Linked DNA regions of Homo sapiens: region 2 is linked to region 1. Evidence: fine-mapped expression QTL. A gene starts in region 1. The other region holds a variant in brackets. All regions are shown on one strand. Distances are from middle to middle.

Region 1 (2,760 bases):
ACACAGTTGGATCAACAAGTCTTCTGGTGAAATAAGATTCGTGAAGAATGCCCTGAATCCTAGGTTGAAAGGCCTGAGTTGGGCAGAACAGTGACGTATGAACTTCAGATGAGGGCCTACACTTCTGACGGCTTAGACCCCACTGTAGGGGAGAGCGCTGGCTGCTTGCACTTGTAGCCCCACCTTATTCTGAGTAATTTTTTTTTTTTTTTTTTTTTTTTTTTTTTTTACCAATAACACACACTAGAGGGGTTGTCAAAATCCTCTATTTTTAGACAGGTTCCTCCCACCCCACCTTCGCATAATCCAGCTGCTCTGCAGAGGCAAAGAAAACACCCATTCAAGTTGGGTTCTGCCTTGAGGGACTTCCTCGCCGTGCCCTCGGCCAGGCCCCAGGCCGGCAGTGGGAGGGTCCGGCGCTTTGGGCTCCTGCAGGCCCCCGGGCTCCACCGGGAGACAGGTCAGCCGCGGCGCGGAGGGGTCGGGTCGCAGCGGCGAGCAGCCACCTGGCGCCCCTGGCCTCCGAGCGCGAGGGCGGCTTGGCACTTGCCCCTCTGGGGTGTCGGGGCGCCCCAGCCCGACCCGAGGCCACCGCTGGGCCGCGTACCTGCTCGGCGCCCGCCGCCTCGGCGTCCTCGTCCGGCGCGGGGCTGGCGCCGGGCCGCCCGCCGGCTTGCTCCGGGGGCTGCGCGGGCTGCTCGGACTCCTGCCCCGGGCCCTCGCTGCCGCCGCCCGGCCCTGGTTCTTCGGGCTCGGGCTCCGAGTCGGTCTGCCAGGTGGAGTCGCAGTCCTCCACGGTGGTGGGCTCGCGGAAGCTGACCCCGCCGAGCAGGTTGCCCATTGAAGAGGCGGCGGCGGGCGCGGGGCTGCGGGGCTGCGGGGCGCAAGCTGCGGCAGGCGCTCTAGGGCCCGGGCATGGCCGCGGCGAGGGCGCTGGGCGGCAGCCTAGGCGCGCCCGCCCCGCACTGCCTCAGCGCGGCGAGCGGCGGACAGGCACCCTCGCGGGGAGGAGCCGGCGGCCCCGGGACCGCCGCCGCGCGCGCCTGAACCCGCCCATCCGGCTCCTTCTCCTCCCCACAGGCGGGAGCTGCCGCCGCCCAGAGCCCCCAGGGGAGCCAACTGCGGCCCCCAGCCGAGCGCCACCGGCCCCAGGCCGCGCCTCCCTTCCACGTTTCTCCCCGGAACACCTGCCTTCACGCGGCCCCCGGCGGCCCCCGGAGTGGATTGGGGTCGGCTACTACCCTCGCCGCCCGGAGCCGGGGGACGCCCTCCCGGGGCATCTCCCAGCTGAGCGGGATGAGGGATCCCGCCCAGCTCCTGGAGCTGAGGACTGGCGTGGACGTGGTGTCGAAGAGGTGTCACCGTCAGCAGGCGGGTCCTGTCCACACCCCCTCCCCCTCTCCCTGGTCCAGGAGGAAGACACTTTAGCTGCAGCAGAGGACAAAAGCTGATGGTGCCGGGCACCATATAAACAGGAAATCCCAGCTGCCACAACTGTACTTAGGGCAGCCACCTAGAGTCCTTGTGGTCTAGAAAAAGTCAGAGCTATCAGTCACCTCATCTAATGAGCAATCGCTCGTGAAACAAAAGGAACAGTAACAACTGGACCATCACATTGATTTGCGGGTAACCTTACACCCACTACAAATTGGTGCTCCGTGTAGGCAAAAATCTCAGAATCAGTAGAACAGATGGGCTGTTTCTAATGGAAGAAGCCTCGGCCCTGTGGTCTGTTCTGCAAATGAAAGGAGGAGGGAGAACTGTGTTAGGGAAGTTCTTTCTTTTTTCTGTTCTGTTCTGTTCTGTTCTGTTCTGTTCTGTTCTGTTCTGTTCTGTTCTGTTCTGTTGTTCTGTTCTTTCTTTTCTTTCTTTTTGAGACAGAGTCTCCCTCTGTTGCCCAGGCTGCAGTGCAGAGGCGCGATCTCGGCTCACTGCAACCTCCGCCTCCTGGTTTCAAGCAATTCTCCTGCCTCAGCCTCCCAATAGCTGGGATTACAGGCATAAGCCTATAGAAGTACGTAAAGATAAGGTAGTATTATCAAATATGTGACCCAGAGAAAAGTGACTGTTGTAAAATGTGTCTTCTGGCTTTCTAACTAGAAGGGAAGCCTCTTTGCAGGCAGCCCCCGTCTGAAAGTGTGTCTGTATTTACAGTGCTGTCAACTTGGTGGATGCTCAGTAAACATTTGTTAAATATGGACTAAGAAAGATGAGCTAGATATTTGAAGATTAAACTGTTGAACTTGGAATGAATAGTTTCTTTTCAAATGTTTCATGATGAAGTAGGAAGCCAAATCATGTTAGATGGACTGTTTCTAAGGGAAGAATCAGGTAAACCAGCTGCCTATTCCATGGATAAATCAGGATTACCTAAGCTCTTCATGCACTGCAACAAGACATCTAGGCTGTAGCTCTGTCACTAATCAGTTTCTGACTTTAAGTAGGTCACATGAACCTAAACTTCCTCATTTGTAAAATGAAACCAGATCTCTGGGAGCCCTTCCAGCTCTGACCTTCTGTGATCCTATGACTGGGAAAAGCTCTGAAACTAATAAGAAATAGACACGGGGTGCACAAAAAGACTTTTGGGGCCGGGTGCGGTGGCTCACGCCTGTAATCCCAGAACTTTGGGAGGCCGAGGCGGGCAGATCACCTGAGGTCAGATGTTCAAGACCAGCCTGGCCAACATGACGAAACCTCATCTCCACAAAAAAATATAAAAATTAGCCTGGCTTGGTGGCGGGCGCCTGTAATCCCAGC
Region 2 (3,020 bases), 43 kb after region 1:
CTGCTTATGGCTTAGCGCAATATCTTCTGGGACAGTGCATGATACAGGAGGTGGCAGTGACAGTAGTTCAGTGGGAAAGAAAGATGTGTTTGGTGACAGCATTTTGGTGAGAGGAAACAGGAGAAAATAGGGAAAAGATTAAGGGCAGAGAGAGACCAGATGGTGATCATAATGAGCCAAAACCCAAAAATGTCATGGACTCAAACCTTAGCCGTAGAGACCCAATGAAATGGAAAATTAACAAAAATAGAAAAAATATAATTTATTTTCATAATTTAATGTATTTGCATCATATCTTATCAAAAAGTATTTGAGGTGAATTATTGAAAGAGAAGATGTTTATTATAAGATTAATAAAACAGAACCAAAAGAGGAAGGGGCAGCATATGGCAACCATAAACATCAGCAGAGCGGCTGTGTGTGAGCAGATACCCTAGAGCTTCCTCCTAGCCCTGATGAAGAGGGAAACTTTTTAAATCATAAAACATTCATTAAATATCATTACCTGAAATTAGGGTACCCACAAAATATTTGTCAGAATAAATTTTCCTGGTGAGAAACAGCTCCTGGGTGACAATAGGAGTAAGATTTAACCAATAATAACCTCAATATTTGTTTCACAGCAAATAGAGAAATTAAATTTGCATAGCTAATTCTGAAAACAACCTAAGATAAAAACTCATGGCTAACAATTGAAAAAACGTATCTACAAAAGCAATGACAAAAAAGTCATTCTCTAAATGTGTAGTCTGACTTGATCCAAGGACATTGATTCATAGTGATACAGGAGGCGGGTAGGGAAGTGCTAAGCAGAGAAAGGCGGGGTCCCTGGGGAGGGCTCCCTCGGGCCTGTGCCCATGGACCTAAGTGAGGACAAGCATTTCTGTTTCCGTGCCCATAAAGTTGCCTTTTGGCCTGCCACACCCCCAATCCTGTGCCCATAAAAACCCGAGAGACCGTAGCGGGCACAGACACAAATGGCTGGTCGTCAAGAGGAGCAGAAAAGCAAACACACAGACACCAGCAGACATCGGCAGGCCATCGGTGGCGGGACAAGGCAGAATTCAGCTGGGGTGGTTAGAGGAGAGTCCCGCTGCTGGGTGGCCCGGCTGCTGGGTGGCCCGACTCCAGGGGGAGACCAACTTCCCAACCCATCCTCCTTCTGGCTCCCCATCCACCTCGCTGAGAGCAACCTCCACCACTCAATAAAACTTTGCACCCATCCTCCAAGCCCACATGTGATC[C/T]GATTTTTCTGGTACACTAGGGCAAGAACCGGGGATACAGAAGGCCCTGTGTCCTTTCGATAAGGCAGAGGGTCTAGTTGCGCTGATCAACACAAGCCAACTACAGACCGCAAAACGGAAAGAGCGCACTGTAACACACGCCCACTGGGGCTTCGCGAGCTGGAAACACTCACCCTAGATGCTGCCATGGGGTCGAAGCCCAAAAACGCTCCCCGTGACCTGCCCGTCTGCATGCTTCCCCTAGTGGTTTGAGCAGCGGAGCACCAAAGAAGCGAGCCACACCCCTGGCGCACACCCGGCGAGGGGGATAAAGGAACACTCCTCCCATTTCAATATTTAATAAGCACTTATGCTGGGTACTGGGACATGTTTGTGAACAAAATATCCATGATCCCTGCCCTCATGGAGCTTACATTCTGGTAAAGGAGTCAGAACATAAAGTAAAAAAGATATAGAAATAAAATTACCGCAAATTATGATAAGAGCTATGAAGAATATTAACACTGCTATCAGGAGTTAAAGGGGCTGGAGGGTGGTTTCCTTGTGTAGATTCGGTATCAGGAAAGGCCTCTTTGAGATGACATTAGGAGTATCTGGAGTATTGAATAGACCCACGACACAAGATAATCTTTCCCAGCTAACCTCTCTGCCAGGCTTTCAACATGCACCATTTAAACAGTGTCTGTAAAACTATGCACTCTAGGCAAATTACCTGGAGTGCAGGTATTCTGTACGAGAATTAAGAAAATGTCATGAATTTTAGAAACCAAGAAGCTGGTTTTAAAATTAACAAGTCTAAGCAACATTTTAGCTCAAATGCAAGCTAGAGATGGTACTGAATAAATAGTGGGGTTTAGAGAAGACAGCCATAAAATATGAAAGAAATACAGACATGGGTTTCAGGTGTTGTTTTAAATTCGAATTGTGTTAACAACAAGTTTAGTGAGTCCAAGTCTTCCTTCCATACTCAGAGGGTCCTCTGGATCTCTGAAGTGACTCCGAGCCACCATGCCCTGGGCAGCTCCATTCTCACAAGCCCCTAGACTACACTAAAAGGGTCCTGCCTACCATGCAAGATTGAGGGATATCTCAATCCTTCTCATATGAGCAGCTAAACGAGTCTCTTTAATTTAATCATCCAATATTGTACTATGTTTAAAAATTAGTTTCTTTTGGGTGGAAAATTCTGTTTGCATAAAAAATTAAGTGAAAACAAATATACAATGAAAAATAATTCTCCTTCTGACTTCAGTCTCAAAATCTCTAACCTCCGTCTCCAAAAGCTGCCAATGGTAAACAGTTTCTTGTGTATAATTCAAGATATGCTTAATGTACACACAAGCAATGATACTTGTATTACACCCATGCACCCTGCCACTGTCCCCCCAACACAATGTAAACCCTAATAGCGGGAATAGTACATATATATCCCATGTCACCTTTCCTCTCATTTAGCAAAATATCTTGGAGGTTATACACTGCATTTTATAGATCTTAGTTTGATTAAGATCTTCCAGTTGATGCTTCTGTTTGTGCCCCCACTCTTTGCTGTTATTAACAGTGCTAAAATGAACATTCTATATAAGTATTTTTGTGCCCATGTGTGAGCATATCTGGAGGAAAAATTCCTTATTTTAGTATTATTTTTTAATTTCAATAGGTTTTGGGGGGACAGGTGGTGTTTGGTTACGTAAATAAGTTCTTTATTGGAGGTTTCTGAGATTTTGGTGCACCCATCACCAAAGCAGTGCACACTGTACCCAATATGTAGTCTTT

What was found. PIP is the estimated chance that this variant, and not a neighbour inherited with it, causes the effect.
Region 2: its variant is fine-mapped to the expression of OGFRL1 in whole blood (TOPMed, PIP above 0.99).

What each region holds. Positions count from the first base shown.
Region 1 is chr6:71,287,018-71,289,777 of GRCh38, reverse strand. It overlaps OGFRL1 (opioid growth factor receptor like 1), which reads right to left and starts at 967. Exons shown (of 7, transcript NM_024576.5): 1 at 608-967. The coding sequence starts at 841. All of the region lies in intron 3 of LOC124901339 (a long non-coding RNA gene), which reads left to right. RefSeq lists a silencer at 255-1,314.
Region 2 is chr6:71,243,897-71,246,916 of GRCh38, reverse strand. No RefSeq gene overlaps it. Among named protein-coding and RNA genes, the nearest start is that of OGFRL1, 43 kb to the left of the region's middle. The variant C/T (reference allele first, on the strand shown) is at 1,245.